2 separate regions of the Homo sapiens genome follow, and region 2 is linked to region 1. The links come from fine-mapping of genetic effects on gene expression. A gene starts in region 1. The other region holds a variant in brackets. All regions are shown on one strand. Distances are between the middles of the regions.

Region 1 (5,383 bases):
AAAAAAAAAAAAAGATAAAGTGATGAAGCCTTTTCTAATATCCTGAAGAACACTTTTCCTTCATATTACTATTGTCCTAAGTACTAATCATATCACCTATCACACTGCCTTGATATTACTCATCTAGTTCTGTTTAACACATTAAAATAGGGGTTAGTTTCTTTTTATAATAGATTGCAAGCTAAGAATTATTTTGACAGTTTCAAATGGTTGGGAAAACAAACAAAAAAATATCTTGTGACATGTGAAAATTATATGAAATTCAAATGTGTCCATAAATAAAGCTGTATTGGAACAGAGTAACATTTATCTCTTTACACATTGCCTATGGCTGCTTTTGTGATACAAGACAGAAGTGAGTAGTTGTGACAGAGACCAAATGACCTGTAAAGCTTAAATATTTACTGTCTGGCCCCTAACAGAAAGTTTGTGACCCATACATCGGAGTATAACCTCCTTAAGGATTTGTGCCTAATGATCCTAACTTGTTCACAGTGTAATCCCTGCTTAGCACTGTATCTGACACATAGCAACACTCAAATAATGTTTGCCAAATAAGTGAGAACAGAATATTAGATGATGCAGCTTCTTCTCTAATGTATTAGTAGCTATATCGTCAACCACAGAATGTAGCTACACCCACAACTGCAGGAAGCTAACGTATGTTCTTGAACTTAAAAAAAAAAAAATCTTCTAGCTAACTTATTAACCTAACCACTAGATTATAATGAACACTACAATTTAAAAAAGTATATTGCAGCTATATATGCTCCATAATGTATTTCCTCCTTACCTTGTAAAGACAGATGTTTACATTTAAAATTATTTGTAATTACTTACATTTAAAATTAGTTGTAAACACTAGTCAGGAATAACTTACTGGTAATTTTGTTGATTTAAAAACAGAAGGACTGGCGAGAGTTTGTTCATGGAGATTAGAATAATCACTAGGACTTTCAAAAGGATTTAAAACAGGGATCCTTCCTGGAGTTTCTGGTGTTATTTGCATCTTTGATTCCTTGACATCTCCCATAGCACAGAGAGAAAACTAAAAAGAAATCAAGAGTATGCATGTTAAAATTACAAAGTCCCATAGATATTAATTTTAACTATTAAAATGTACTCGACAAATGTGTCACAAAAAACAACTCAAAACCTCACACTCTTGGGGCTATGATACAGCTTACAAAAAAAGTATCACATATAAATGTTCTCAACTGATCCTCGAAACAACCTTGAAAGCTATAGCAGTAACTTACTAGTGATATTATTTTGCGAAAGTATTAAGCTCAGAGAAGTGAAGTGGCTTATACGCAGCAATCAAATATGAATGAATTCAGATCTGCCTCTGAGGAAACTAAAGGTTACAACAGGCCCAGATCTCTTCTCAACTAAAGGACTTATAGCTACAATTTTTTTTAAATTCATCATCTCATGTCTCAACACTATGAACATTCTTCGGATACCCTATCCAACTACAGTTGCTATTAAACAATTCTTTGTAGCAAGCAGGTAAGAGATGAGGAAGCTTGTGCCTTTCTTGCACATGAGTCCTAGCCAGAGAAGTATGATTGACAGGGGCTAGGAAATTAACTGCCTGGGGTCCCCTTTCCTCCAAAAATCCTCCTTTCGCCAAGACCTCCCCTCCACCCCTCCCGGGATAGAAAGGGAGACTGCATTACTTGCAATCAAAGGAGGCTACAGAGGCTACACCTTGGCGGGGTGGGGTGGAAAAGAGTCTACTTCTGGAAGGTTGAGATGCAGCCGGCTTCCCTGGATGGAGTGCGAAGGAGGCGTCGCCCCCAACCCTACGTGGCCACTCTTTCTGGTGCCCCTCTCTTCCACACCTACTCCCTGACTGCTCCCATTCACCAGGGGCGAGCGGGCAGGCAAGTCAGGAGCTGGGAAAAGAAACCTCTCCATTCAGACAGGAGGAAAGGCCAGGGACCACAAAGAGCGTACCTACCGGTGCGTACAAAACGAAGCCCCCAGTACCGACTCCAGGGAGCTCCGGGGGCCAGGCCAGCTTCCACGACAGGCATAGACTCTTTAACTCCCCGCTTCCGCGCTGTCTTGGGCCAACCAGGGCACGGGGCTTGTGAGCGACTAGCCAATCGTGTCGTCCCGCCATCCGCGAACCAGCCAATCGCACGGAGGCCGCGTAGGAAATTCGAATGGCAACTCCTCGCTCCACGTTCCGCGCAGAGGAACGTGGCTCCAAATTCAAATCAACGCAGCCTCACGCCGGCGGCGAGCGCGAGGGGCGGAGCCTGCCCGGCGTGGGCCGAGACGCGCTGTGTGATTGCCTCGGAGAGAGGAAGGCGCTCCAGTTCCGGGTCAGGCCCTTCTCCCGCCTCCCTCGGCCTTAGCCATGGCGAGTAGCAGCGGTGCTGGGGCGGCGGCGGCGGCCGCGGCGGCGAATCTGAATGCGGTGCGGGAGACCATGGACGGTGAGTTTCCGTTGCGCTCCCTTTACCTTGCGTGCCTTCCCAGAGCCAAGGCCCCCAGGCGGGAATGAGCCTGGGGAGGACTTCAGGTCCCCTTAGTGCCCCAAACGGCATCTTCCAAGATCTTTGGTAGGGACCTGCCAGGGCCGCAGGGCTGATGGCCCTATCCCTTGAGAGTTGTCTCCGCCGCTGCGTAGTTTGTCGCGCGCGCTAGGCGTTGCGGCCCCTAGTCAGCCGGTTGCGCACCGCGTCCCTCTCGCGCGAATGCCGCGCCCCCTCTATCCCGCATCCCAGGTCCGCCCTACCCGCCCGATCTCCTGCGGTGACAGCGTCACGCCCACCCCACCCAGTACACCCGTTCCCTCCTGCGTGCCGCGTCCCACCCGATTCCCGCCCGGGGCGCTTCGGGGGTCCCCAAGGTTGGGATCCCGGCGGGGACAGGGGCCAGGTGTTTGGTCACCGCTATGCCTCCTGTTCTTCGCACTTAAGTAGGCACCTTTAATATCCGGCGAATGAACAAGTTCCCCTTTGGTCATAATTATCCTAGTTTCCTCTTGAAGCGGGTGACACCAGTGCCCAAGTGCTATGGTGTCGCCTGTTTTCGGCCCCGGAGGCACGTGTGTGTGAAGCCTACACAAGTGTTGCAGAACACGAAATTTGTGTCTTGCGGTTACCCTCTGTCTACCCTCTAATGTCGGTTCTGCCACTTTATGCCCCTGTGGTGAGCTTGGACTAGATACTTAAACATCATTGAGCCTGTTTAGTTTTTTTTTTTTTTTTTTCTGTAAAATAAAACCCTACCTCCAGGAGTTGTGAATATTTAAATAAGACAACCATGTAAAAACATATCAAAGATGATCAATTATTTTTATATTATTTCAGATGGCCTCTCTCTTGTAGTCTTCTTTCTTTGTCTCCTTTTTACTCACATCCACCTGTATTATGAGTGTTTGATCGATGTTGTTATTTGCAGTGGGCCTAGACGTTTTCCAGGGTCTACTCACGTCAGCTTCCGTCTCTGTTAAAAGATAACCCTATGAAATTCTCACTGCTGTATCTCTCTCTCCTTCACCGTAGGCTCTTTTTTTCTTTTTTGAGACACAGTCTTGCTGTAGTTGCCCAGGGTGGAGTGCAATGGCGCAACCTCGGCTCACTGCAACCTCCGCCTCCCGGGTTCAGGCGATTCTCCTGCCTCAGCCTCTGGAGTAGCTGGGATTACAGGTGCCCGCCAGAACACCCGGCTAATTTTTTGTATTTTTAGTAGAGACGGAGTTTCCCCATGTTGGCCAGGTTGGTCTCGAACTCCTGACTTCAGGTGATCCACATGCCTCGGCCTCCCAAAATGCTAGGATTACAGGCGTGAGCCACCATGCCCGGCCTCATTTTCTTATGTAGCACTTGCAGAGGGGCTGCTGGCTTTTTCTGCACTGGTCCTGGTTTTCTTTTCAAAGAATTACACTTTTAGAGCCTTTGCATCTAATTTTTCACTTGTTCAGTATCTACCTTGCTGTTTTTCTGAGAATGTTACTCTTAATATTCAGCTTATTTTTCTATCCTTTTCGATGTATCAACACTTAATAGTTTTATTTTGTAAGTGGATTTATGTATGAATATATATATGTGTGTGTATATAAATATAAATTTACTGTCTTGTATATTTCCTTGGAAAAAGGTAGAGTATAAGACCTCACTTCTAGCCTATTTTCTTAGGTTAGCTGTACTTAGGTTCCTTATGTATATGGCCACAGGATCCCATTTGAACAGAAAACTCACATTTTCTCTGGTGGAATCACTGATGTACAATTGAGAACTGATGGTTTGTGTTGGCTGCATCATCAAGATCTCTTCTGAGAAAACTTGGTGTGAAATGAAGATTATAAAGAGAGTAAGAACACAAAAAAGTGAAGTAAAACAAAAAATGAAGGAGAGGGGATGTGGTGTTACACAGTATTTAAATCAACCCGTGAGATCAAAAATAAAATTTTCAAAACTTTTTGAATACCATTTCTCCCCTCAATGGTAGCATTTGTGAACCTCCCTTTAAGTCATGTGAATTGCAGAACTCTTGGCTACATTTGCATTTTGATCATGAAATGAAAGGATTTTGTTAAAGACATGGAAGGAAGCAGGCTAACTTTCTATTAATAAATTATCTGTGCACCTCACTCTGAAAAGAACTATCTCTGCCAATTTAGAATAAGGTCTGCATGAGATCTCTGCTTTCATCCTTATATCCCTAAAATTCTACACGCTTAAAATAGTCGTGCCTTTTCAACAACACCCCCCTCGCAACCCACTGTGTATGGTTGCCTCTTTTGCTTTTCAACTTTTTGGTATGTTAGGTACTCTCTATTGATTGCTTTTTATACCTTAATTTTTATTTTCCTCTAAAATCGTCCTGTGCATCTGAATTTTAATTTTGATAATTATTCCTTATGAGAGGCTTTATCATAGCACTATTTTTTTTTTTTTTTTGAGACCGAGTCTGGCTGGAGTGCAGTGGCGCGACCTTGGCTCACTGCAACCTCCGCCTCCCAGGTTGAAGCTGGGGATGGGAACCAATTCTCCTGCCTTGGCCTCTGGAGTAACTAGGATTATAGGCGCCCGCCACCACGCCCAGCTAATTTTTGTATTTTTAGTAGAGACAGGGTTTCACCATGTTGGCCAGTCTGGTCTGGAACTCCTGACCTCAGGTGATCCACCCGCCTCAGCCTCCCAAAGTGCTGGGATTATAGGCGTGAGCCACTGTGCCCGGCCTGTAGCACCACTTTACATATATATATGTGTATATATATATATATATATATGTATATATATATATATATTTAGTAGTAAGTACGGGTGCCTGTAATCCCAGCTACTTGGGAGGCTGAGGCAGGAGAATCGCTTGAACCTGGGAGGCGAAGGTTGTCGTGAGCTGAGATTGCGCCACTGCA
Region 2 (5,383 bases), 21 kb after region 1:
CAGAATTGTTTTGTTTGTCATTATTCTTGCCTTTAAAATTTTAACTCATCAAAGTGAAGATTAGAAATAAATTTTAGAAAATGTAGAATAGTATTGATTCTGTTCCTGTAATAGAATCTCAGTGGAGTTTTTTTGCAAAACTAATATGGATTTCATCTGATTTTATTATTTCTTAAATTTTAGATTTTATTGAGTACCATTTATATGATTGTACAAGCATTCACTCTTTACTAGCATTTTTTGTTTTTCAGACAAGCTGAAGTGGTTTTATTAAGATTTGGTAATATTTAAATAGCAACCTTCTCTGCCTTTTTTTTTTTTTAATATAGAATTTTGACCATTTTGACTTTTTAAATGCCTGGCATCTTTACCAACCAAGTAAACTGGAAGATCTGTTACTGGTAGAACAGGTTGAGGAGACAGTAGGAATTTGTAAAAAGTCATTTGATTTATAATCAACACTACAAATACTATGTGTTATTTATAAAATCATAAAGAACACTTTTGTCAGACTCCAAAATTTGTATATACTTCCAGGCCATAAGAGTTGATAGTATTATTTATGACTTTGTAGATTAAGTTATTTATGTATGAAACAAAGCAGGAAAATATATTGAGAAGGGATCGTGTTTACAGAGGACTTCTTTAAAGTGTCACATTTTTAAAATGTAAACATATTTTTAATGCATACTTAAGTAATATTTAAGAAACTAAACAAAATAATGATACAATTGCAGTGTTGTGCTTGTTGTCAATGACAAAAATAAAACCATTTTGGTGGTATTGGCCTGTACTTTTGTTTTAATATATGCTTTTGTTAATTCAACTTGTGTTTCTATAGGACAAAAGATACAGAACATAAAATTTACCATTTTAACCTTTTTTTTTTTTTTTTTTTGAGATGGAGTCTCACTCTGTCACCCAGGCTGGAGTGCATTGGCATGATCTTGGCTCAATGCAGCCTCCGCCTCCTGGGTTCAAATGATTCTCCTGCCTCAGCCTCCCGAGTAGCTGGGATTACAGGCACCTGCCACCATACCTGGCTAATTTTTTGTATTTTTAGTAGAGGCGGGGCTTCACCATGTTGGCCAGGCTGGTCTCAAACTCCTGACCTCAGATGATCTGCCTGCCTCAACCTCCCAAAGTGCTGGGATTATAGGCATGAGCTACAATGCCCTGCCCTTTTTAACCATTTTTAAGTTTCATAGTTCAGTGACATTCAGAATATTCTTATTGTATTGTAACTATCACTATTGTCCATCTCTTGAACTTTCTTATCCCAAACTGAAACTCTGTACCTGTTTAGCAGTAACTCCCCATTGCTTCCTCCTCCCAGCCCCTGGTAAACAGTTTCCTACTTTTTTGTCAATGAATTTGACTATTCTGGATACCTCATATAAGTGGAATCATATTTGTCCTTTTGTGTTCGTCTTATTTTACACAGCACGTCTCCAAGATCTATCCATGTTATAACATGTATCCAGATTTCCTCTTTAAGGATGAATATGTCTCATATATACATGGGAGACAGGTATTCTTTTATATATATGGTGGACATTTGGGTTGTTTCTACCTTTTGTCTATTCTGAAAAGGCTATTCACAATAGCCACAATGTTATGGGCATTGGTATACAAATAACTGTTCAGGTCCTTGTCAGTTCTTTGGAGTGTATACCCAGCAGTGGAATTGCCAGCTTTTAAACATTTTTTTTTAAGTTTAACTTTAATTCCATAGGCATTAGAGAAAGAAGGGGACATGGTCAAGCTTTTTTTGGGAGTTGCTTTGCTAGTGACATGTAGGCTTGATTTGAGCAGGGAGAGGTTAGAAGCAGAGACTAGTTAGAACACTACTGAGTAACCCAGGCCTCAATGCTCACATCTGGGTAGATTCAAGAGACATTACAAAAAATAAACATAGGACTTAATGGCAGGTTATGGGGAAAATAGAAAAGAAAATAAGGTGACTGAGTTTCTAAGCCTGGGTAACAAAGATATTATCAGCAAATGGAAATCAAGAAGGGAATATAATTTTCCTGGAAAAAAATGATTTTTATTTAAAGAGTATTGTGTTTAACATATATATTAAATCTTAAACCTTGCCAATCTTCCAAAGACCATTGCCCATCTCCATTTTTTTTTGTCCTACAGCATTACCACTCTCTAACATAGTATACAATTTACTTAGTTTTATCTATTAATATAAACAAATATACCTCTACCTGAAAGTCCCACAGGGGCGGGGATATTTCTGTGTTGCCACTGGTGTATCTTAAGTGTCTTGAACAGTGCCTAGCACATAAGAAATGCTCAATAAATACATGTTGGCTGAATGAATGGATAGACTGGGCATCCAGGAAACAACATGTACCACGTGGTTGAAAATAACTAACATTGAGAACTTGCTGCATGCAAGGCACTGGTTTTGGTGCTTTTAATAGATCAAATTGTTTAACCTTTAGGCTTACAGCAACCACGAGAGATAGATAGCATCATCCTATTATAGGTCAGGAAGCTGAGGCACAAAGTGGTATACAACTTAAATCTCAGAAGTGGTAGAGCCAGGATTTGAACCCTGGTAAATTGAGTCTGGAGCCCACACACCTTAGTGCCTGTTACTATACATCATCTC[A/T]TGGGATGAAGAGGCACAACTGGAGAGGAAGATGAAGGAGATTGAAAATCAGATGGCCAAAGTGGTAGTCGAAGCTCTGGATGTAGATGCTGAGAATTTAATAGAAGACTAGTGACAGATGCTTCTCTTTCCCAGGATTGTCCCATTCTTAGGGAATATACCATTGATGATGGTAGGTTGGTGAAGTTTTGTAGCATCTCAGCAGATCTATATTACTGCTTTTTAATTACAACAATGTAAATAAATAACAGGTTAAAGTCATTCCCTTTCCAGAGGTGCTATACTTGAGAAACCCAGTTCTAACAACAAAAAGATCTCTCTTTTATGAAGTTCACTGTTGGGCTCATATATACCAGACTGGAGTATTGTAAATGTTGTAAAAAAGATGGTGCATGTGGTACTCACTTTGGCAGCACATACACTAAAATTGGAACGATACAGCAAAGATTAGCATGGCCCCTGCACAAGGATGACACACAAATTCGTGAAGTGTTCCATATTTTTAATTGCTTCAAAGAGAATAAAATACCTAGGAATCCAACTTAGAAGGGATGTGAAGGACCTCTTCAAGGAGAACTACAAATCACTGCTCAACGAAATAAAAGAGGACACAAACAAATGGAAGGACATTCCATGCTCATGGAAGAATCATGAAAATGGCCATACTGCCCAAGGTAATTTATAGATTCAATGCCATCCCCATCAAGCTACCAATGACTTTCTTCACAGAATTGGAAAAAACTACCTTAAAGTTCATATGGAACCAAAAAAGAGCACACATTGCCAAGACAATCCTCAGCCAAAGGAACAAAGCTGGAGGCATCACGCTACCTGACTTCAAACTACACTACAAGCCTACAGTAACCAAAACAGCATGGTACTGGTACCAAAACAGAGATATAGACCAATGGAACAGAACAGAGCCCTCAGAAATAATGCTGCATATCTACAACCATCTGATCTTTGACAAACCTGACAAAAACAAGAAATGGGGAAAGGATTCCCTGTTTAATAAATGGTGCTGGGAAAACTGGCTAGCCATATGTAGAAAGCTAAACTGGATCCCTTCCTTACACCTTATAGAAAAATTAATTCAAGATGGATTAAAGACTTAAATGTTAGACCTAAAACCATAAAAACCCTAGAAGAAAACCTAGGCAATACCATTCAGGACATAGGCATGGGCAAGGACTTCATGTCTAAAACACCAAAAGCAATGGCAGCAAAAGCCAAAATTGACAAATGGGATCTAATTAAACTAAAGAACTTCTGCACGGTAAAAGAAACTACCATACAGTGAACAGGCAACCTACAGAATGAGAGAAAATTTTTGCAATCTACTCATCTGACAAAGGGCTAATATCCAGAATCTACAAAAAACTCAAACAAATTTACAAGAAAAAACAACCCCATCAAAAAGTGGGCAAAGGATATGAACAGACACTTCTCAAAAGAAGACATTTATGCAGCCAACAGCCACATGAAAAAATGCTCATCATCACTGGCCATCAAAGAAATGCGAATCAAAACCACAATGAGATACCATCTCACACCAGTTAGAATGGCGATCATTAAAAAGTCAGGAAACAACAGGTGCTGGAGAGGATGTGGAGAAATAGGAACACTTTTACACTGTTGGTGGGACTGTAAACTAGTTCAACCATTGTGGAAGACAGTGTGGTGATTCCTCAAGGATCTAGAACTAGAAATCCCATTTGACCCAGTCATCTTTACTGGGTATATACCCAAAGGATTTTAAATCATGCTACTATAAAGATGCATGCACACATATGTTTATTGCGGCACTATTCACAATAGCAAAGACTTGGAACCAACCCAAATGTCCATCAATGATAGACCGGATTAAGAAAATGTGGCACATACACACCATGGAATATTATGCAGCCATTAAAAAGGATGAGTTCATGTCCATTGTAGGTACATGGATGAAGCTGGAAACCATCATTCTCAGCAAACTATCTCAAGGACAGAAAACCAAACACCGCATGTTCTCACTCATAGGTGGGAACTGAACAATGAGAACACTTGGACACAGGAAGGGGAACATCACACACTGGGGCCTGTCCTGGGGTGGGGGGAGGGGGTCGGGTAAAGCATTAGGAGATATACCTAATGTAAATGACGAGTTAATGGGTGCAGCACACCAACATGGCACATGTATACATATATAACAAACGTGCATGTTGTGCACATGTACCCTAGAACTTTAATTAAAAAAAAAAAAAAAAAAAAAGATGGTGCATGTGACAGCCCTAAATAGCAGTCTCAGGAAATCTGTTAACAAGTGACACTGTCCATTAGAATAGGGCAGAATTTTTTTTTTTTTAGCAGTCCAGAGGTCTTTTATTTTAACACCTATTGTGCCATGAACTTATAGGGAATAGGCTCCAGCAGCTCAGACTCCTTCCCATTGGTTCTCACAAAGTGTGCTTCTCTGGGTGGAGCAGGCTGGCACTTCAGTTGCACCCAGGTACCTTTCTCTTTGGCTTCTTTTTCTGATAATTTTCCTTCACATGTTTCAAGAAGCTGTCTCAACTCTTAGAGTACTTAATGTGTTCTTAGTTCTCTTGGCAAGAATCTTGCCCTTAACTTGTTGACAACACTGCCAGCAGCCTGCTGGATAACGTTGTAGACTCTTCCAGTTTCGCCATGGTAACACCTGAAGAGTAACCATTCCCTTGATGTCTACAATATCACCTTTCTTGTAGATTTCGCATATACGTGGCCAAAGGG

Which allele goes with the higher level. Alleles are on the strand shown, and positions count from the first base shown. SD is a standard deviation of normalised expression in the study named.
As copies of T replace A in region 2, the expression in anterior cingulate cortex of the gene that starts at base 2,345 in region 1 goes up (small effect, 0.19 SD a copy in GTEx).

What was found.
Region 2: its variant is fine-mapped to the expression of MZT1 in anterior cingulate cortex (GTEx, PIP above 0.99).

Annotation. Positions count from the first base shown.
Region 1 is chr13:72,724,591-72,729,973 of GRCh38, reverse strand. It overlaps MZT1 (mitotic spindle organizing protein 1), which reads left to right and starts at 2,345. Exons shown (of 3, transcript NM_001071775.3): 1 at 2,345-2,450. The coding sequence starts at 2,372. It overlaps BORA (BORA aurora kinase A activator), which reads right to left and starts at 2,051. Exons shown (of 12, transcript NM_024808.5): 1 at 1,967-2,051; 2 at 881-1,048. The coding sequence starts at 1,033. RefSeq lists enhancers at 1,770-1,819, 2,540-2,609 and silencers at 2,030-2,179, 2,703-2,884, 2,840-2,899.
Region 2 is chr13:72,703,767-72,709,149 of GRCh38, reverse strand. It overlaps MZT1 (mitotic spindle organizing protein 1), which reads left to right. Exons shown (of 3, transcript NM_001071775.3): 3 at 1-783. It also overlaps the pseudogene RPL21P110 and the pseudogene RNU6-80P. Among named protein-coding and RNA genes, the nearest start is that of MZT1, 21 kb to the left of the region's middle. The variant A/T (reference allele first, on the strand shown) is at 2,630.